Linked DNA regions of Homo sapiens. The protein of the gene in region 2 interacts with the protein of the main gene of each other region in a pairwise test. Each region holds a gene or a part of one and is shown on either strand. Other genes may lie near its edges. The genes, in order: SPATA7 and NPHP4.

Region 1 (13,216 bases), on a different chromosome or scaffold from region 2:
TAGAAAGTCTAGAAGATATATGGATGACTAAATATAGAAAAAAGAAGTATCGAGCTAGGAGAACTAAAATCTAAGACCAGAGAACAAAGCTTGTCAGAATAGATTAAAACAGAAAAACAAACTGAGGTCAGAATATCTATGAAGCTCTTTCTATGTCACAGGTCAGAGTGCAGGAAGGAAAAAAATATTTAGGACAATACAAGTCAAGGTGATGCCATCTGAACTGGGAAAAAAGATAGTCATGAAATGAGCATAGCTTCTACCAAGAAAGAAGGAGGGTAAGACCTAAACATAAGAAAAAATACCAACAAACTCTCAGAAAAACCTCATTTCTCCAGATAGAAAGAACTGTGACTTTTTTCTTGTCCAGAATTCAATGCCTCTTCACCTGGAAATGACAACTCAACTTTCCTTTGGGCGACTCTTCCCTTACTCTTAGCCCAGGTGGTTCAAATAGAGCTGACCCCACTGTCAGGGTTAGGCATAAAACCCAAATGTGGACAGCTGTGTTGACAGCGTCAGCAATGCTATGCGATCCAAGTCCCAACATGAGATACACAATCCTGGGCCTTTGACAGGAACTATTAGGAAAGGTACTTTCATTTCACTGGGCTTGCTAAACCCAGTGAAGGGTCTAAGCAAGCCCTGTATTGCTGGTGGCCATCCTGAACCTTATAAAGGAACCTGTCTGAGAATGAAGCCTACACAGTCAAGTGGAACCAAGATAGAAAGCGATTTCTTGGTGACATCATTTGAGTACCTGAGGCCAACCATGTTTGAAGCTCTTCCTTCCCTAGACGTTTCTTTACATTAGCCAAAAAAAAAAAAAAATTCCCATTTTAGCTTAAACCAGTATGAGTTGATTTCTTCATTTGTAGTCAAAAGGCTAATTTATTGAGTGGTAACCCTGCCAGGCAGTGCTCCAAGCACTTTGCTGGTATAAATTCATTTAATCCTTACAATACTATAATTCTCCCTACTTTATAGATGAGGGTAATTGAAGCACAGAGGTTAAACTTGTAATTTGCCAAAGATTACACAAGAATGTGACAGATTTGGGATCTGAACCCAAGCAGTCTGTTTCCTGGGTCTTAATCATTACACTATCTTGACCAATATAAACTGCTCAGTACTTGAACCATGTTCTAAGCTACTAAATCATGTGAAACAGACCAAGAAGATATCTCAGCTGTATGTAGTTTATTCCCTCCAAATTCCATTCTATTCTATGTATGTTTCACTATAGGTCACAGAAAAAGGAAAAACAGGTATACCCAGAGAAGTGTGAAAGGATGAAAAGAGAATGAAAAAAGGCTGGAACCTAGTGATAATGCTCTGGATAGAAATGCTTCCCCACCCATCTGTAAGTGACAGCTGTGAACAAGGTGGTTAATATTTGGCCCCAGGAATCAATCCAGCTGCTCTTTAGCATAAGATGGTGATAAGAACAAACATGGAATTTAGATGTTCCTTGATGTCTATGTTCCCTTGTCTATTTACCATCAGACGTACACCAAGGCATATACTCATTGGTTTCTAATATTCCTATAGATACATGTCATATTAAAAATGACAGAATTAGGGCTGAGCACAATGGCTCGTGCTTGTAATCCCAGCACTTTGGGAGACTGAGGCAGGCTGATCACCTAAGCCCAGAAGTTCAAAGACCAGCCTGGACAACATGGCGAAACTCTAACTGCACAAAAAAATACAAAATTAGCTGGGTGTGGTGGTGTGTGCCTGTAGTCCCAGCTACACAGGAGGCTGAGATGGGAGGATGATTGAGCCCAGGAGGCTGCAATGCACTCCAGTCTGGGTAACAGAATAAGACCCTGTCTCGAAAAAAGAAAAAAGAAAGAGAAAGGAAAAAAAAAAACCTAACAGAATTGAGGGGAGAAATAAGACGATTTAATTCATCTACCCTCTCATAGTTTCTGGTTCCTCCTTTGTGTCCTGTGTATAGGTCACATTTTCCTGTTTTTTTGTTTTTGTTTTTTTGCATGACTTGCAATTTCTTTTTGTTGAAAAGTTAACATTTTAGGTAATATATTGCAGCAACTCTAGATACAGAATCCTCTCCTGAGCTTGTTTTCATTGTTGTTCACTTGTTTGTTTAGTGACTTGGCTAAGCAATTTATCAAAGTCTATTTCCCATGGAATGTGAAGCCTCCGATATCACTCCTCGGTGATGAAGCTTTGGGCAAGTGCACAATCACGCCTTCTCTAATGAGGTCTGAACCCCAGTCTTTGGGAGAAACTCTCTTTCAAATTGTCCTTCTTTGAGTACTTTCCCGTAATTCTAGGTACCAAATACAGTTTTCTTATCTTTTTAATTAATTCATTAATTTGTTTTATATACTAGAGACAGGGTCTTGCTATGTTACCCAGGCTGATTACAAACCACTGACCTCAAGTGATGCTCCTGCCTCAGCCTCCTAAAATGCTGAGATTACAGGCATGAGCTGACACGCCCAGCCCCTTACATCTTATAGTTACTCTTTTATGAAAGTATAACAATTCTTTAACTTTTCCTTGTATAAAAATCACTGTATGGTTTCTATCTCCTGACTGGACTGGACCCAGAATGAGCCAAAGGGGCATGGAGAAGTAGCCTCAAACCAAATGCCAAGGAAAAGAACATCATTCTCTAACTATTAGGACTAAAATCTTGTCAATGAGATTGAAGGTCTTAGTGGTGAAATTCACTGGTATATGAGAGCAGCCCATTTTCCTACACAATTTGATTAAAATAGCCAGAAGAAAGTCCAGTGAGGAAAGATGAAAGTGTTTCTTGTGGCAAGGTTTCTCTGGAAAACCAAAGGTTTGGAAATCTACCATTGATAAGTGTCTCTATGAGACCAACAGATCAAAACAATTTTTTTTTTGAGATGGAGTCTTGCTCTGTTGCCCAGGCTGGAGGGCAGTGGCATGATCTTGGCTCACTGCAACCTCCCCCTCCCAGGTTCAAGTGATTCTCCTGCCTTAGCCTCCCGAGTAGCTGGGACTACAGGCGCACGCCACCATGCCTGGCTAATTTTTGTATTTTTTGGTGGAGACAGGGTTTAATTCTGTTGCCCAGGCTGGTCTCAAACTCCTGACCTCAAGTGATCCACCTGCCTCAGCCTCCCAGAGTGCTGGGAAAAAATTTTTTTTCAAGTTACTTTCAGTAATATACTAATAGGTTGTCTCCTCTCCTTCCTAAAGGTCATTGATATTAGAGTGAATGGCAGTTTGTTATTCTCAATCTTTTCTTCACCTTCCCCCATAGGAAGCTGGAAACCATGCCTTATATATACCTAGTCCAAGCCCCCATTTTATAAATAACTGAGGCCCAGGGACGTACAGTGACATGCTGAAGATTACCTAGTTAGTTAGTAGGAAACAAAGATTACAAACAAGACTAACCGTTTTTCAGTCTGGTGCTGTACTATACCACCATTTAGAAGGCTTGCCTTACAAAAGAATGTCTAAAACGTGATTACAGTAAGAGCATGACAAAAGATAATTTTTCTTTAGATGTTTTAATATTTTATGCTCTGAAATAACTAAAAGCACCTCCTAATGAAATCTAAGAAATTTATTCTCAATTATTTTAGCTGTGTCTAAAATTATTTATGGTTTCCTATTAATTTACAGTACATGAAAGCTGACTGCCCTGGTTATTTGGTGATTACATTTATTTTAAAAATTCAAAATAACAGTATTTGACATTATCATATATTATTTCCTAAAAATGAAGCTAATTAAATTGTGCAAGTTGTAAAAATATAAACCTTTTTACATTTGGCATGAACCCAATTTTTAAAATAATTCAATAAACAAATACTGACAACTTACTAAATCTACCATACTCTAAATGTTACATTTATCCTTTCCCCCTGCCCATCCCTACCATGGGATAGTAAGTAAATGCATTGGCTTCAGATTTATATTCTTCACCTAGATTCAAATCCTGTTCTGCCGCTGTGATCTTGGCAAGTTATTTGTGATCTTTTGCTTTAGTTTCTTCACTATGAAATAAGGCTAATGCCTATCAAGGTATTTTTGTACATTAAATGAGATAATTTGGAAATAGTTCCTAGTACATAGCAAGGGTTTAATGTTAGTTTATATGCAAAATTTCTTAAGATCATAAAGCGTTTTGATTTGCTTTTTCTGAAACCTAGGTTGGTGAAGTGTCAGAATAGTTTGCTGATCAATGAATAGTTATCTCCTACATTCGGAGTAGCACTTATTTTGATCAATGACTATATAATAAAGGCAGACTCATTCAAAGAAAGACATCAAGGAATCATCTAGCAGCTTGGTTTAAAGGCAGTCTTTTAAATAGATAAAAACACTGAATTGGGAGGGGCGGGGAGTCTATAAAGATTGCCTCATTTGACTCGAGGAAAGAATGATACTGGCTCAGAAAGTGTGAAAATGCAAATTATTTGGTTTGGGCCGATTTGTAGATATTTAAGATTGTATTTCCCCACCCCCAACCCCACCACATGATGTCCACCTGACTCAAGAAATCAGTAGAGAACAGGTGTATATGGTGAGTACGGATTGCTGCTAAAACTGCAGTCCGCTGACCAGCAACACCGCATTACTTGGAATTTATTATAAATGCAAAATCTCAGCCACCCCCAAGGGACCTACTGAATCATAATCTGCATTTTAACATGACCCTGAGGGGATTCCTATTCACAGAAAGTTACAGAAACCCTGGGTTACTCAGTAGCTTTGGGGGAGGTAGTTCGTTACTGGGAGATTTCGTATTTACTGACCACTTCAAATGCGCCAGGATCTTCTCTATATTATCTGCATTTAATCCTCAAGAACTCCATGGCCTGGGTATTTGACCCTCACGTTCAAGAGATAAGAAAACTGAGGGTCGTCTCCATGGAGAGCAGAGGGGTTTGATTTGGGGCCCGGGGAGGTCTGACTCCAAAGACCAAACCTGGTTCCTCTGCCTGGGAGCTACTGAGGTTTTAAAGGCTGCACGACCCTGAGTTCAGGAGACAGGGGCCCCTGGTGTCAGGGCGACAAATTCAGGGCAAAGAAGCGGACCTGCGAGGCTGGCAAGCAGGCTCTCCCTCTTCCTTTGCGCAGGCCTGGGCAGCTCCAGGCAACACTGGCGACTCAGCCAGGGGTAGGAAGCGCCCCAAGGGGCGGCCTTGCACTCAGCTGCCCGGACCCGAGGCTGGGAGCGCCGCCTGGAGCGAGGGGCGAGGCGGCGGTAGCCCCTGACAGCTGCCCTTTACCTCTCCGGCTGCCATCCATGCTTAGTCCTCTTGCAGCCGCCGCAGGGACACGCTGTATCCCCTTCGGTCCTTCCCGCGGCCGGGCCCAGCCCCGGCAGTGGAGGACTGGAAAAGAGGAGCCGACGGGGGCTGCAGCAGCAGGGAAACCGTTGCCAGGCCGTTGCTAAGGGCTGGGTCCAGTGAGTCGCTATTGTGACGTCACGGCGCAGGGGACGTGCGTTCCGCAGCCCCGCCTGCGGGATACCCGGTACTAGGAGGACAGTTGCGGACGGAGAGACCTGGCGGGGAAGGGGCATCGAGCCCCAGTCTGTTGCTCTGGGATCCTGCCAGTCTTCCGCAGAGCGACCTCCTGTCAGGATCCGAGTCACCAGCACCTGGCAGGCTCTGTCCCTGCGGGAAGAGCAGGGAGAGGAGGTGGACTCATCTGGCATCCACGTCCCCTGGGTCCCGGAGAAAAGTGAAACACAAATGTTAGCTGAGGTCAGGGTAACATTTAACCAGTTCCAAATAATTAAATTTCAAAGCAGTCCGTGAACTTTTGGATTAGTGAAAATCCTAGGGGTGAAAAACATCTACATATTTACATCTTAATTCTTAACCTTAATAATAAGTTTGAATTTCCTTTCTGCTCGCCAAGCTTCCCCGCTCCTGTCCCTGCCTCCCTTTTATCGTAAGTTTCAATCCATTTTTATTTATAATGGAAGAGAGCTGCAACATGAATAAGGGGTTGATTTATTGATGGCTTTCTATAATTTGTTTAATTTTGAAGCAGTTACCTTTGAATCCTTGGAAATAACGTCAGATCAGGGTAGGAAGCATTCTGTCATGTAAGACTTCTCAGCCCAAATGTCCATTGACATTTTGGGCTGGTTGTATAATTCTCTGTTGTGGGGGTGCTGTCCCTATGAACTGTTTTGTAGCATCCCTGTCCTCCGTTTACTAGAAGCAAGTAGCTTCTCAGAAGCAGACCCCACCCACTCCACCTCCAATCCTGACAGTCATAAATGTCTCCAGACATTGTGAAATATTCCCTGGGGGGCAAAATCGCAACTCTGTTGAGAACCACTGCTGTAATGAAAAGAGTCCTGGTTTTGGAACCAGATATGTAGAACTTAATTCTAAATTTTTTGCTACTTACCAGCTTGATCTTGAATTAGTTTCTAAAACTTTCTGAGCCCCAGTTTTCTCTTTTCTAATGTAGATTGTGAAAGTTGTCAGAATCAAAAATAGAGTCACATGTGTTAGAAAACCTGACAAGTGGAACTGGAGAAGGCCATGAAGGAGAGTTCTCATCCATGAATGCCTGATAATAAAACTATCACAAAATACTGCGAAAACCACAACCTTGCACAAAGACCTCCACCTTACCCAAAAAGATACTTCTATGAGGACATCTGTCCAGCAATTGTCTGTCCAACCTTGAACTGACATCACCCTTGTTATTGATGCTTGGAGCCAAGGCTAATTACCTCAAAACAATTATGTAATCCTCTCCTTTTTTTATTTTTTAAAAAAACTTTTTTTTCCTTTAATTCCTTGAATATGCAAACAGTTTGCCATGGCACGCATATTCCTATTGCAATGCCCATTCCTGGGTAAATGTCATTTTCTTCTGTAGAGTTGAGGACTAAGCTCTAATTTTTTTATCTTGCCCAAATTCCTATCTAAGGTGTCTAGGGAGTCATGCCCTAGAAACCATAAATTCTTATCAGATGGGTTTTATTTGACTCTATATACCATGACTTACTTTCCAATCTGATTCTGGCATAATATTATGAGACAAGGAAAAAAAAATCAAAATATTTAACCCCAAGATATATTTCCTTGCCATATCTTGAAATTGCCCTGCAAAATCTCTTGTGGGAAAAAACCACATTCTATAGAGAATCTCTTTTCCCCTTTGTTTTCCTTCTTTCCTTTCCAAATCCAGGAGATAACCAACTAAGAGCCAGGCACCCTTTTAGGTCCGACAAGACAAATTTTACAATCTGCTCTCTCTCTGAGGTCTGCTATACTGAGAGCTTCCTCTGCACAATAAACTTGGTCTCCACAATCTTTTATCTTAACCCCAACATTTCCTTTTTATTGATCCCAGGCCTTCAGATAAACTCAACCAATTGTCAACCAGGAAATGTTTAAATTTACATACTCATTGAGTTGTCCCACCTTTCTGAACCAAACCAATGTATTTCTTATTTGATTGATGTCTCATGCCTCCCTAAAATGTATAAAACCAAGCTGCACCTCAACCACTTTGGGCACATGTTCTCAGGACCTCCTGAGGGTCACTCATATTTGGCTCAGAATAAATCTCTAAAAATATTTTACAGAGTTTGACTCTTTTCATCAACAGTCTACCTCTCTGTTGCTTGGGATGAAAAAATGATGCTACTAATTTTATAGTTAAAAGAATTAACAGTGCCTGGCAAATAAAAGAATGTATTCAATAAATGTTAGCTTTCTCTCTTCTGAGATTCCTATCTCAGCAGAGCTGGGTATCAGGGAATTCAGGCTTGAGGGAGTAAGTCAGAAACTCTGTAACAAGGAAGGAGAAATAAATCAGAAACCCGGTTATAATAACGCTTGAACCCCTGTTTTCCTAAAACCCAGGGTAGGCAGACAATGATTCAAAATTGGAGGCATGTTGAAGTGTGTGTGATGGCTCTGTGGCCCCAACAACAAAAGTAATTTGGAAGGATACAGGGGCAGGGAGTCAGATGTTATGCAGTCTATTAGTTCATTCTCACATTACTGTAAAGAACTACCTGAGACTGGGTAATTTATGAAGAAAAGAGGTTTAATTGACTCACAGTTCCATAGGCTGTACAGAAAGCATGGCTGGGGAGGCCTCAGGAAACACTATCATGGTGGAAGGGCAAAGGGGAAGCAAGTAGCTTCTTCACATGGCAGAGTAGGAGGGAGAGAGAGCGAAGAGGAAAGTGCTACACATGTTTTAACAAACATATCTCATGAGAACTCACTATCATGAGAACGACAAGGGGAAAATCCACCCCCATGATCCAATTACCTCTCACTAGGTACCTCCCCCAACATGGGGATTACAGTTCAACATGAAATTTGGAGGGGGACACAGAGCCAAATCATATCATGCAGAGAACAAAAACTCCTTCCTAGGTACTCATTATTGCCTGAAATCCATTTCTAAGATCATGAAGGCCTTTATTTCACTACTGGCAGCTAGCAAATACTTTGCATATAATAGGCCTCCAGTAAGCATTTGTTAAATTGAATTAGAAACAAGGAACCCAAGGCAAACACCCTTGGGATAAGCAACACAGTGACTTGACTCAGGGAAGGTGATACCAGCTCCTCTTAGAAAAGTAGACTTTAGGATGACAAGTAGATTTTGTTTTCAAGTAGAACGGGGGGGTGCGTGATCTGGAGAGGGCAGCAGAATGGGAGAAACTTCTGGAGACCATATTGTCTGGTACCCAACTTTGTCTGAAGCCATCTATTTCATTATTTCCCTTTCAATATTTTGTTCCAATTATTTCAAGAATGTGTGCATAATAGGGTCTATGTCTCTCAAATTTTAGCAATGAACATGTTATCCTAAGTGCAATTTAATTTGTCCTTTGCTTTGGCTCTATGTATGTAAACAAGAGAGAAGATTCTTTCTGGTTGCTATTCCCAGGAAATAATTCATGATCATGGGTGATGGATACAGCTGGTATGAGTTTATTATAGGGTGAGCTCCCAAGAAACACCCTTCTATTGGGAAAATCATCACCAGCTGCAATGGCCTTGGAGAGTAGGCATTCTGAAGACCTTTTGTTGAATATATATGTTTACACCTGAATTTCATGTTCTGAAATTATTCCAATGCTATAATCTTGTTATTGACATTTAGAAATCTGCATATGTGTTTTTGTTTGTTTATTTATTTATTTATTTTTGTAGAGACGAAATCTCGCTCCATCGCTCAGGCGGAGTGCGGTGGTGTGATCTTGACTCACTGCAACCTCCGCCTCCCGGATTCAAGCAATCCTCCTGCCTCAGCCTGCCGAGTAATTGGGACTACAGGTGCATGCCACCACACCCAGCTAATTTCTTTTGTATTTTAGTAGAGACGGGGTTTCGCTGTGTTGCTCAGGCTGGTCTTGAACTCCTGAGCTCAGGCAATCCACCCGCCTCAGCCTCCCAAAGTGCTGGATTACAGGCGTGAGCCACCATGCCTGGCTAATTTTTGTATTTTTAGTAGAGACAGGGTTTTGCCATGTTGGCCAGGCTGGTCTGAAACTCCAGGCCTAAAGTGATCCACCTGCCATAGCCTCCTAAAGTTCTGGGATTACAGGCATGAGCCACTGTGCCTGACCCATATGTGTGTTTTAGACGGAAATACTTTGTTTCCCTTAATGAATTGGCATGAACTAATCAATTACTGGGTTTCTTTTTTTGTATTAGCTTACAGGAACCTCAAAACTAAGATTTGTGCTCAGTTGAAATAAATATTCATAGCCTTTTAAAAATTTATCTCGTTAATTCCCTTTATTAGGAATATGACTTCTTCTTTTAATGGTTTAATTAGGCCTGTCTTATTGGATGAGCTCTAAGCCCTTTGGAAATGGGCTTTTATATATTTGAAATATACAATATATTTCAATTTTATATAAGTGAAATAAACTATATATTTTAATACCATAACCTATAGTTATGCAAATAATATATAGTTTATTGTTTATTCTGTTTTATTATATATTATTATTTTAAGCATTATGTTATTATTATATATTTAATCTATGTCTTTATGGATGACCCTTAGTTTCATAATTCAGAGGATTCCTGGAATTTATATTTGTGTGTTTAGAAAATGTTCCAGTAAATACAGTGAAAACAACAAGAAGCCAAAGTTCAAAACAACATTTTTCTATTTATTGAGTTATTGCGAACATATTTTAACCCTTAAAGTTCCTGAAAGACAAAAATGAAGGAAATTTAGGGAATCCTTAAAAATTATATGTATGAGGGCAGAGTAAAATTATAGAGTTAAATGTGCACTGTGCTGACCTCAGTCTCAAAACAAAATTGCTTAGGTTTCAGTGATTTAAGAATGCTTGAGAATTTGAGCTATTAACTATTTCTCAGTCATTCTCTAATTGAAATAATGTAGCAATTGATTCATCTAATAACTAAATGAGAAAATGGAACTTTAGAGCTTGGAGGTATTTAGAGCTTGGAGGTATGAAATAATGGATAATAATTTGCTGTTTGTCACTAGAGGGGGCTTTAGGAAAGTTTTAAGCTCCATCCCTGTGAGGAAAGCAGCCATGCTAAGGCAATATTACCTACAAATCTTATTCAAGCAATGTAACGTGCAACTGACAAACATTTTAAAAAGTGATTCCAGGGGAGGGGCGGAGTGAGATAGCCGAATAGAAGGCTCTGCCAATCATTCCTTCTCAGGAACACCTAGCTTGACAACTGTCTACACAAAGGGAGTAATCTTCATAGGAACCAAAAATCAAGGGAGCACTCTCAGTGCCTGGCTTTGATTTCACATGACTGAAAGAGGCACCAAAGAGGGTAGGAAAGACAGTCTTAAATTGCTGATGCCATCCCTGTCTCCTCCCCCATTCCCCAGCAGCAGCTCCCTGTTGGAGAGAATCTCTGTGCTTCAGAGAGGGGGAGCACAGCGGTCATGAGGCTTTGCATTAGACTCAGTGCTGCCCCATCACAGCAGAAAGCAAACTGAGCTGTACTCAGCTGATGCCTGCCCATGGAGGGGGCATTTGGACCGGCCCAAGGCAGAGGGTAATTGCCCATTCCAGCAATTGGAGCTTGAGTTCTGGCAAGGCTTGCCACTGTGGGCTGGAGGCACTGGGGCCCTAAGTGAACTTGAGGGGCAGTTTAGGCCACAAGAACTGCAATTCTTATGCAAGTCCTGGTATTGAGCTGGGCTCAAAGCCAGTAGATTGAGTTGGAGGGTGGGACGTGTGACCTATTAAGATACCAGCTGGGGAAGCTAAGAGTGCTTGCACCTCTCCCTCTTTGTCCCGCCTCACCAACCCCAGGCTACACAGCTGATGAAGAATGCATCAGAGTATCTTAATAGCAGAATTGATCGAGCAGAAGAAAGAATTAGAGAGCTTGAAGACAGGCTATTTGAAAATACACAGTCAGAAGAGACAAAAGAAAAAAGAATAAAAAAACAATGAAACATGCTTACAAGATCTAGAAAATAGCCTCAAAAGGGAAAATCTAAGAGTTATTGGCCTTAAAGTTGAGGTAGAAAAAGAGATAGGGATAGAAAGTTTATTTGAATAAATAATAAAAGAGAACTTTTGAAACTTAGAGAAAGATGTCACTATCCAAGTACAAGAAGGCTACAGAACACCAAGCAGATTTAATCCAAAGAAAGCTACATCAAGGCATATAATAATCAAACCCCCAAAGGTCAAGGATAAAGAAAGAATCCTAAAAGCAGCACGAAAAAGAAACAAGTAACATACACTAGAGCTCCAATACATCTGGCAGCAGACTTTTCAGTGGAAACCTTACAGGCCAGGAGAGAGTGGCATGACATATTTAAAGTGCTGAAGACAAAAGACTTTTACCCGAGAATAGTATATCCAGTGAAAATATTCTTCAGACATGAAGGAGAAATAAAGACCTTGCCAGATAAACAAAAGCTGAGGGATTTCATCAACACAAGACTTGTCTTACAAGTACTCCCCTAAAGAGAGCACCTCAATCAGGAAGAAATGGGCATTAATGAGCAATAAGAAATCATCCGAAGGGACAAAACTCACTGGTAGTAGTCAATATACAGGAAAACACAGAAAATTATGACACTGTAACTGTAGAGTGGAAAGTACCCTTAAGTAGAAAGACTAAAAGATGAAATCAAAAATAATAATTACAACTTTTCAAGACATAGACTGTACAATAAGATATAAATAGATACAACAGAAAGTTAAAAAGCTGGGGGATGAAGTTAAAGTGTAGAATTTTTATTGGTTTTTTTTTGCTTGTTAGTTTATGCAAGCAGTGTTATTAGCTTAAAATAATTAATGATAATAAATACAAGATAATATTTGCAAGCCTCATGGTAACCTCAAATCAAAAAACATACAACAGATACACAAAAAATAGAAAGCAAGAAATTAAATACTACCACCAGAGAAAATAAATTACCTTCACTAAAAGGGAGACAGGAAGGAAGGAAAGAAGGGAGCAAAGACCACAGAACAATCAGAAAATAAATAGCAAAATGAGAGGAGTAACTCCTTACTTGTCAATAATAACATTGAATGTAAAAGGTCTAAACTTTCCAATCAAAAAACATAGACTGGCTGAATGGATAAAAAAAAAAATAAGACCCAATTATCTGTGGCTGCAAGAAACACACTTCACCTATAATGACACACAAAAACTAAAAATAAAGTGATGGAAAAAGATTCTCCATGTCAATGGAAACCAAAAAAGAGCAGAAGTAGCTATACTTATATCAGACAAAATAGATTTTAAGACAAAAACTTAAGAAGAGACAAAGAAGGCCATTATATAATAATAAAGGGGTCAATTCAGCGAGACGATGTAACAGTTGTAAACATATATGCCCCCAACACTGTAGTGCCCAGATATATAAAGCAAATATTACTAGTATTAAAGAGATAGATAGCCTCCAATACAATAGTAGCTGGAGACTTCAACACCTCACTTTCAGCACTAGACAGATCTTCCAGACAAAAAAAAAAAAAAAATCAAAAACATATTTAATCTGTGCTATAGACCAAATGGGCCTAACAGATATGTACAGAACATGTTATCCAATGGCTGTAGAACACAGATTTTTTTTTCTTCATCACATGGATCACTCTGAAGGACAGACCATATATTAGGTCACAAAACAAGTCTTAAAACATTTGAAAAGTTGAAATGATATCTTCTGTGGCCACAATGAAATAAAACTAGAAATCAATAACAAGAGGAATTTTGGAAACCAT
Region 2 (10,454 bases):
CCCAGCATCCACCCCCGGGCTGTCCCACGCTCTCACCAGCAACCTCTCTGCATGGTCGTGTTTATTTCCAAGGGGAGCTGACAAGGCAGGGGAGCCCTGCGGGTGCATCCAAGGCCTGCCTTTGACTTCAGCGCCCGGTACAAGGATGGGAACCAGTGCTCAGCCAGTGTGACGCGTTACTTGGACTCGAAGGCACACTTATTTCCGAGACTGAGCTGTCTAACATTACCATGAAAAGCCCTGGGCACAACACCCTTTCCCACACTCAGGAGAAACTTTGCTAAATCTCCAGCTACTAAAGATACAACGGGCCCACCCAACTATGGGATGGTACCTGTCACCGCCCTGGGGCTTTTGGAAGACTGCTGGTGATTTGAGGAACTCGCTCCTAAATGCAGGCTAACTGCCCTCCATTCAGGTCCCCGGGTCTTCCCCTAGGAGTCCCAGGCACAGCCCCACCACACCTGGAAGGAGTCCTCTCTGAACCGCAGCAGCTCCGGGTGGTCGCTGTGCAGGTGGAATGTCCTCCGGGAGGGGTAGGGGTTGGTGTAGGTGATCCTCTTGTTGACACCCTTCCCTTCGCCCGCAGCCAACATGATCTCAAAGGCCTGTGGAGGGAGGGGACAGGGAGACGCTGCGGCCACTCACGGGAACAGCCACTGGCCCTTCCTCCAAGTATTCCCTGAGTCTCCTGTGCACCGTGCACGGGGACCCCCACAGAGATAAGACAGACGCTCTCTGGAGCTTCCATCCGGGAGAGACACAGCACAGGAGCAAACACTCATGCACCCGGCCCTGCTGGGTCAGAACACTGTATCCAGTGGTCCGAGTCACAGGGCCGAGGTGGGGGTCCTGCAGTGCCCTGGTATTGAGCCCCCATCCCCTCAGCCTGTGCCTGCCACACATACAGACCTTGGAGATGAGCGGCTGGCGGCAGCAGAGGCACACGAGCCAGGAGGCCACCAGCTGGTGGCAATCCACGTCCACCAGGTTGAGATGGACAAAGCGGCTGCCGGCCCTAAGGGGCCTCACGCCAACATGCAGGTCCTGCACCCCACGAGGCGGCAGCACGAAGACACCTTTGGGGTCTGTCTTCAAGAGCGAGAGAGGCGGGTCAGAGCACAGCCTCTCAGGATGTGCAAGCAAGGGGCTCCTGGGCGCCTGCAGCCCAATCAGCCAGGGGAGCCCAAGGTCATGGGTGGTTCCGGGGCGGCCAAATCTGAGGCCACAACCAACCCTGACATGACTGTGGCCGCGACTTGGGTCCACACCAGGCAAGTCCCTCCTCTCACACGGCGACTATTCCCTAAGCGCTGCCTCCGCAGACAGAACTGAAGCCATCTTGGGCTTAAAACCCCGGCCAGCTGGTGGCACCAGGGGCCGCCCTCCCACCCCGTCTAACTGTGGCTTCACTAACACCAGAGCTCCTGTCACTGTTCACCTTGCCAGGAATTCTGAACACCGGCCTTTGGGGTTGGTGTGTACGTCACTCACCCCACAATGGCACATCTAACGAAAGGCAACTGCCGAGAGGCCTCTGGTAACAGCGTCTGCGCGCTGGAGGCGCTGGAAAAGCTGCTGTCAGGGCCACCCACTGTGCTCCAGCTGAATGCCCACTGCCCGTCTCCAGGCTGGGGTTGGGGAGAGGCTCAGAACAGCCCCCAGAGAGGCCGTACCTTCAGCTCCTGGGGATGAGAGGTGAAAGCTCTCACTTTCCTCACTGTCTGTGTCCCCCGAAGGACAAGGGACAGGCGGGTCAGCTGGCCTGCGACGCAGGAGACATCCACGCGCTGCAGGGAGTGGAGGTAGACCTGCCACGTCTGTGTGGGTGTCGCCAGCCAGCGATCCCTGCAGTGGGATGGGAGCCATCTGCACTTGTCCCGGAGGACTCAGCACCGGCCCACGAGAGGCCAACAAGGGCTGCCAGGAGCGTGGGCAGACAGGAGGCTGTGCAGGGAAAGCCCCAGAGGACCAGGCCACAGGAGGCAGAGCTGGGGCCACGCAGGGAAAGCCCCGGAGGACCAGGCCCCAGGAGGCAGAGCTAGGGCCTGGTGGCTCCACCCCTGGCTGCCCATCTCCCACCCACAGCAGAGGCTCTCAGGGCGCAGCAGGGCTGCTTAGGAACCACATGTCAAACAAATGACAAGGCACGCTTTGGCCAAACACACATCCTGGACAAGTGTCCACCCCCAATAGGGGTTCTGAGGCTAAGCCAAGGGCAGCGCCACGCAGGAGACAGGGTGGGGCTGGAGGTCATGCCGGCCTGAGCACGGAAGCCCCTGTTAGCATTTTAGGGCCAAGAGCCTGCTGCTTCACAGTCAAATGGGGCTGGGTGAGGCATCTTCATGGGCTCACGAGGAAGCCACTCTGAGACGTGGTCACGTGGCCCCTCTGTGGTGGGCACTGAGTGCAGGTTAGCCCCTGCCCCATCCTCAGAAGCACTGCAGGAAATCTCCGAGCTCACACCAGTTTGAAAGGATTCTCACAGGGCTTGGGGATCCGACTTAGGAGGGGAGGGGAAAGGGGCCGGGTCATTTAGCCTGGAGGAGAGAGGGATGGGCATTTCCACCACAGTCCTGCCTCTCCGCAGGAGGGACCACAGCTTCATTCATGCTGTTCAGCCTAGGGACTCAGCAAGAAAAAGGTAATGAGGGGCTTCTGGGTGGCCCTTGCCACTATCTGGGGACAGAGGCTGACTGGTGTCTCTCCTTGGTGGCAGGAGCTGCATCCCAAGTCCCTCAGGCTGCACGTGCCCCTCCAAGGTGCCTTCCCTAGACCCCTGCGGGCCCTGAACTCGCAGCAGAATCCCGCCTCACAAAGCGAAGGCCCGAAAGCTCCCCCAATTTTAGGAAGGGGCCAAGCCCACTTTCAATCCACCAGCAGCCCCAGGCCTGCCTCCTCCTCTCCTCCGCCACCGCCTCCAGGTCCCCAAAGCCTGTGCACTTACGAGTAAATGATGACAAAGAAGTCTTTGATCTCCGGGCTTGGACCACTGGCCACCTTCAGAAATATGTCCCGTGGTTCCCCGGGGCCCTGCCAACCAGATGTGCAGCACATCAGGGCACACAGTGCTCTGCCGACCCCAGCCTGGCCCCTAAATCTGTGACTAATACACGCAGCGAGTGACGGCCAGTCCCTCCCAGAACGCATCTGTTCATGTTCTATACCAATCGGAATTCACTATTCTGTTCACTGCCAAAGAGAAGATCATTAGCTTCCTGATTTTACATGGATCTCAACAATTAGATTCTACAGGAGATTTTATCCGGTTTCCTAACTGGTCATAACACAATTATTGCCTTATCCTTTACATAATGGTAATTAATAAGTGCCTTAATTACCATCCACTTTATTAACTTTGCTTCGTGCCTTTTTAAAATTTAAATTCAGATGATCAAGGAGCTGATCTGCTAGTAGAAAAAATAAAAACACACTCATAAAGCTCTCATAAGGATGTCAAAATAGCCCTTTAGTACCTTGGGAAAGAAACCACTTAGCAGAAAACCTAAAATGAAGAGGATCCCAGGATACCCGTGGGGAAGCCGACAGGGGCGCAGACTCACTGGGAAGGATCTGCCTGAGCTGGGGCCACAACACAACCTACCACATTCTGGGTCTCACAGATGACGTTCGGGTCGCTGCAGCGAACATGGACTGGGGGGTCCTCACCAAGCATTCCCACCGGAGCACCTGGAGCAGGGGAAATGTCAAAAAGAGTCTTCTCCACAGCCCCAGCCTGTGTGGAGAAGGCCCCACACATTACACACTATAGGACAGGACAGGCTCGTCACAGGTGCTCAGCAAGACACCTGCTGGGGAAACGGACGCCGCCACCTTTCCCAGGACAGCATCCAAGCACTGTGTTCCCTGCATGGACACCGCCCATCCAGCCCACTGCGGCTCGGCTGCAGCCATCTCCACAGGGAATAATCGAGGGGGCCACAAAAAAGAAAACACAGCTCCCTGGAGCAGGGAAGCCTGCACTCTGCTGTAAGGGGCACCTACCAGAAACACGCGGGCCGTCAGGTGAGGAGGTAGGTGTTCCTCCAGGCACACCTGGACCTGGGCCGCGGGAGCTGGGATTTTTTAGAAGGGCAGACTCAGCCGGCAAATGCGCACCTAGTCATCTCAGAGGTGGCAAGAGGGACACCGTTTCAAACCATAAAGGCAGGAGAGAGAATTCCCCAGGCCCCACGTGCTGCTCTGACAGCACCAGGGCATGAAGCCATGAGGCCATCTGTCACCCTCAAGAGGTATCTACTTCCAACAGGTGAGCCTGCAACATGTGGGCTGCAGGGTCAGTGCAGGACCTGCCTGGAAATGTGTGCCAGGGCGGCAGGCGGATGGCCTTCTTCAGGAAGGAGAGCTCCGGGTGATAGAAGCGGAAGACCTGGTCCACCACGTGGGGCTGCAGCTCCACAGTCAGGCAGAGCACGGCGATGGGCTTGCCACCACTCGCTCGGAACAAGACCTGTGAGGAGGCCACGCTGAGTGTTGGGATGGGCACGAGGCTTGTGAGCAGCTTCTTGTCCCTCCTTAGACAGCACACGTATCTCCACTGTTGCCAAGACCCCCTCACCCTCCACTGCCATGAGCGGGGAAGGTCGGGCATCGTCAAAGGCAGGGACTGAGTCTGCAGCAGCAGGTCTCCACCAGGAGGGGACCGCTAAGCAAGGTCTGGGCCGGCACCCACACAGGGCACCCAAGCAGCCACACTGCCATTATTCCTCGCGAGTACAGCACACTTCTTAAATGCCAGTGGAGAAGGTCTGCAGTCCCAAGTCAAAACTACTCCTGCCATGATCCCACCTCCCGACACCCTGTGTGCATGTGCGCAAGTCAGGCCAGGAGGTCCTGGAGTGGGTGGTGGCAGGGCCAAGTTCGCGGTCAAGCACGTCAGCACAAGCTCTTTGATTCCAGATGGCAAAAAGAGGCTGTGCCTAAACCAAAGGGGTTAGAAATAGAAACTTTCCTGGTTTCAAAAGAGCTACTCATTAAAAACCATATTGTCTGAAGAGGTATTAATTGGGACAACTGATAAAAAGGCTATATTTGTTTCAAGATACACACAACCACAGAGACATGCATACTCACACACACGCACCCACACACACGCATGCACTCATGCACCCACACATGCACCCATACACATACACATACATGCACACCCACATGCATGCAGGCACACGTGCACACACATGCAAACATGCACCCATGCATGCACACACGCATCCAGCCACAAATGCACACACATGCATGTACACATATACATGCACGCATGCCCCACACACACACATGCACGCCCACATGCATGCACCCACACATGTACACATATGCATGCACCCACATGCACACACGCACACAATGCACACATACATGCACACACATCCACCCACACATGCACACACGCACCCACACACGCATGCACACACATACATGCACACATGCCCCCACACGCACACATATGCACGCCCACATGCATGCACCCACACATGTACACACATGCATGCACCCACATGCACACACACACAATGCACACACACATGCACACACATCCACCCACACATGCACACACACGCACCCATACACACACACATGCACACACATACATGCACACATGCCCCCACACGCACACACATGCATGCCCACATGCATGCACCCACACATGCACACATGCATGCACCCACATGCACACACGCACAATGCACACATATCCGCCCACACATGCACACACACGCACCCACATGCACACAATGCACACATACATGCACACATATCCACCCACATGCATACACATCCACCCACATGCACACACACACACACACACATGCACACCCACATGCATGCATGCATCCATACATGTACACAGATGCACAAATACAAACATGGATGCACATACACACACACCACCCACACATGCACGCACACACACACATGCATGCACACACACATGCACACACTTCACACCTGCACACACTGAGAAGGAGAGAGTGGGGCAGGGCAAGAATGGAAACAAGATCCTTCCAAATATATCTTGCTTTATAGTTTGATTTTTGACTTACTTGTTTTTAATTTTGAAAACTAAAATAAATAGAAGTGTTAATGTATTAAAAATAAACAAATCTAAGCTTCTATCAAGTTGGTGCTGTAATTATCCAGAGAAGAATTCTTTAAGTAAATGTAAATCACAGGACACAAAGGACCTAAAGACAAATGCACCTTCAGAAATCTTGCACTGACAGATAGTGTCTAGCCCTGGTTGGTACTGATGTTTTGAAATATACACGTACATAAAGATGGCCAGTGGTATTGTAGCCAAAGGGATTTGGCCAGTGTGGTCAGCAGATTGGTTATATACAGAGGAAATTAGGCAAATAAGTAAGCCAAATGCGAGCTAGGTTTCTCATGAGCAGAAATGAGAATTACAAACATGGAAAAAAACAGGAAGAAACCCGTGATGTTAAATTGGTGTTGGAAGAACTGCTGCAAATTCATGGTCTTCAGCACACTAGAAACAGTAGTCTGTGCACATACACGCACATATCTATACATCATATATGCATGATATGCACATATTGTGTATGTATGTATCTGCACCCACAGGCATACACCTCTTAGGTCTCTGCTGAGAGGGACTTAGCAGCAGTGACATCCCAGTAGTACTGAGTACATCTAACGCTCAAATCTTGGTTTCTAAATATCATTCTCCAACCAAAGGAACCCGAGCTAAATAGCTGACACTCCTGAAATGCAAGCTGAGCCTGGGGCGTCTTGCTGTGCTGGGCAGTAAGGAAAGACTCAAAGGAGGACAGGGGTGAATCAACAGGACGCAGGAGCTGGCCTGAAGAGGCTGCCCTGGTTAGTCAGGGCACGAATATGAGCAACAAAATAAATAATGATAGTAACAAAATGAATAAAATAGAAATTCATTGTTCATAAGGATATAAAAAGTAAATAGGTGAATGGGGTGAAGGCACAGCTCTACCTTACTTAAAATACCAGTAATCAACAGAGAAGGAATGATGGAATTGGAAAATCCATGGCAGGCAAGCATCCCACTACCAACCAACTCGGGCCAGGTCATCAGTGCACACTGACACCTAGTGCGTCAAAGTCTGATGAAGAATAGGGTATTTGAACGGCCTCAGTATCTCCCAACAAGATACTTACTCATGACTTTCTAATTACTAGACATTTCCTGATATTACAGGAAAAAAGCATGGCAGATGTCATCTTAACTGAATGAAAACAGTAACATCGCCAGTAACAGGACAAAGCAACACGGTGTCCCTCACAGTATGATGTTCGTAGAGGACACGGCAAATGTCTGTGGAGGTCCTGCCCCAAGTGCATAACCTGGGTCTAACTGAAACGAACACCAGACCAGCCCCACTGGGCACGCCCTGCAGGATAACCGCCTGTGCACTTCACAACAGCTGCAGCCACGCCAGAAGGACTCCATGGGCAGCAGGCTGGTGGGGGCCACTGGACGGGCCATCTATCAAGTGCTGGGACATTTGTGAATGTGAATGGGGCCTGTGATGACAGAAGAGGAGCGTCAGTTCCCTAATTTTCATGGCTCTCCTTTGACCACAGAGGACAGTGGCCTTATTTTCAAGATAACCCAGCTCGAAGTGTCATGGAGTAAAGGGCATTACCTGATAATTTATTCTCAAATTGTTCAAGAAAAATGCACAAACAGAGAGTGGCGAGGCAAACATGGCAAAGGTTAGTGACCGGGAAGTCTGGGAAAACCCTATGTGGGGACTCTGCACTCTTCCTGTAACTCTTCCCTAAGTTCTAAATTATTTCAAAATAACTACTTGTTATTTAAAAAAGGCACAGGAGTTAACTTGAAAAGGATGGCGGTGGCCTGAGAGAGGGCAGTTCCAGCGTCTAAGAGCGGTGCCTCCATGGGATGAGAAATACAAATATAACGCCTCGGTGTCCATCATGAGACGCCGCAAACATGGACTGTCTCTGGAGGCTGCTAGGACGCAGCTCATTTATTTGAAAATTGATAAAGGGAATGATTCTAACATTCATCCTCACTTTCAAGTACAAAGTATATTTTAGGGTAACCAAACTGCTGATCGGGAAAGTCCTTGTTTGTAGAAAGATCACAGGAAGAATGACAGGACTGCAATTTCACCATTTTCCACCCTGGATGGAACACGCAGTGGGCCAGGAGCCTCAGCTGGATGCGAGTGAGGGAGACACGGGTGATGGCATCAGGCCATCAGCACCTGAGCACGGTGACAGCCAGCATGGCCTCTGTGGGTGGCCTTCATGGACAACGTGGTCTGCCCACTGAGCAACTCCAGAGGCGGAGCACCCCAGGACAGCGGGTCCTGATCCAAACGCACCAGTGGTAGAAAGGCCCGTGGTTACAGCCCCAGCAGACGATGCCGAGGTCTGCGTTGACTGGGGGCAGCAACAACAGCATGCAGTCATGATAAAAAGAAAAGTCCTTATCAGTCAGAGATACACACTGCAGTAATTATGGGTAAACTAACACAGTGTCTAGGATTTCCCTTCAAACTCCAAATTCATGTGAAGAGATCATATTTCTGACGTAAAGATTATTTTAAGGTGAAAAGAAATCTTACCTGAACTTTCCTTATCTGACTAGTGCACAGCCACCTGAAAGTGCAGCTGCCATTAAACCCCTATGTGAAAGTGTAAGTGAAAGCATCCTGCAAATTCCAGGAAGGTCACAGACTGGCCATGCTCACAGCATAAAGAGACAACAGAATGTCCCCGTCTTCCCACGGAGGCCCTGGCCCTCGCCCCCTTTGTGCTACATTGGCACAGAAACCTCGACCTCTGGGCATTTGGCAAGCTACTCACTTCCCAATGCTGCCACGGGCTCACAACGGTAAGGCCCGTCTTTGCTGCTGTCCCTCTGTCTACGGTCATCCACCTGCAGCCCTTACCATTCAGACCTGAGCTAGCAGAGGAAAACCTTCCTCCCAACGGTTTTGGCAACAGGACGCGATGGCTGGGACTTCCCACTCATGTAAGGAAAAAGCGTTAACCTAGAGCACTCAATAAAGATCAGATACATTCCTTAGATCAAGGCAAAGCTGTGGCTGCACACTTAAATAAAATAAAGCAAGTTTTCACTGGTGATGGGGCCCGGTGGACACAGAGGGCCAGGCTGCAACCACAGTGAGACCCGGGCCACGGGAACGCCACAGCCTCACAGGACTGCGCTGAACTCTGAATTCTGTCCTCCAGGCAATGTGTAAGAAAGACCAAAGCTTTTTAATTTTGTTTTTCACTTCCCAACTACTACAAAAGGCATGTTTCTACCGAATAAAAAACAACCTTCAGAAACTGCCATAAAGCAGCAGTGTCTCAAGCTCCTCCTGAGAATGTCTCAGCCAGCTGTTGAGAAGCAGGTGCCTTACTATACGGCCTTCGCTTAGCAAGGGACGTAACCAAGGACTACGTCTTATTTCCAGGAAGAACCACACCACACACTCACACACCAGGGAATGCTCTGCGTGAGGCTCAAGGAGTGGCCGCAGGCTGTGGCAGCCACCACGGGAACTGCGGCTTCACACCCGGAGAGCCCTGGGCTGTGAGAAGGCGGCCACCAAGGAGGCATTTCCGACCAGATACCATGCAGGCTGTGCCAGCGCCCAGACGGAGCTGCCCTGCCCAGCGAGGACACGGAAAAGGCCATTCCCAGGCCCACGCCACCCCTGCCCTGACCTGGCCCCAGCCCTCCCCTCCAGGAGGGGAGAGAAGGACACAAGGGTCAGGCCCTGGGAATACCCAGGAAGCCCCGAGATCAGTTTGTCCTCCGTTGCCCCTTTACCTTGGCGTGTTTAGTGGGCACTGCGCTGGACTTCCAAGGTGACACGGCGTCCATGCCCTTCTCGTTGCTCAACCCAGGAGAGGCCTGCAGGAACCGAACAGCACAAGCAGGTCAGGAAGCAACACCATTAGGCGACCAGCACCTGTGCTTAGAGACACCACTGCCACCCAGCTGGGAGCCACCAGCCTCCTCTCACACTGACTCTCCAGGCAGCAACCATCACCAACCGGCCTCACTGTGCCAGAGAAGGCTGAGGCTGCCAGGAACAAAGGGAACAGCAGATCCCAGGTGGAAACCCGGCTCTGCCTGAAGCCAAAGGCCTGAGGTCCCACCTGCAGTCCTCACAGCCCATCCCAAGAGCCAGCATGGCATCCTGTGAGTGAGCCTCTAGGGACATCTCAAGTCCACCTTAAGCGATGACCACCACCCTAGAGAGCTGACCCCAAAAGGTCAAAAGCTGAAACACACACTCCACACCCCATGCCGGCCTCACGCACCCGGGCATGACACACCCCCTGCAGGCACACCTCACACACCACCCCCTGCACACAAGTGCACACCTGCACACACACCTCACATACTCCCTGCACACACACAACTGCATGTCTGCACACACCTCACACACTCC

What was found.
Region 1: the proteins of NPHP4 (region 2) and SPATA7 interact in a protein complementation assay, tested with the Homo sapiens proteins (one study listed by IntAct).

Annotation. Positions count from the first base shown.
Region 1 is NC_000014.9:88,377,871-88,391,086, reverse strand, and holds the start of SPATA7 (spermatogenesis-associated protein 7), read right to left. Parts: upstream 5,431-13,216; 5' UTR 5,269-5,430; coding exon 5,250-5,268; intron 1-5,249. UniProt on the Homo sapiens protein: Involved in the maintenance of both rod and cone photoreceptor cells.
Region 2 is NC_000001.11:5,863,426-5,873,879, forward strand, and holds part of NPHP4 (nephrocystin-4), read right to left. Parts: intron 9,911-10,454; coding exon 9,827-9,910; intron 4,472-9,826; coding exon 4,315-4,471; intron 3,691-4,314; coding exon 3,605-3,690; intron 3,034-3,604; coding exon 2,948-3,033; intron 1,849-2,947; coding exon 1,677-1,848; exon of another isoform or gene 1,099-1,676; intron 1,093-1,098; coding exon 913-1,092; intron 609-912; coding exon 465-608; intron 1-464. UniProt on the Homo sapiens protein: Involved in the organization of apical junctions; the function is proposed to implicate a NPHP1-4-8 module. Does not seem to be strictly required for ciliogenesis. Required for building functional cilia.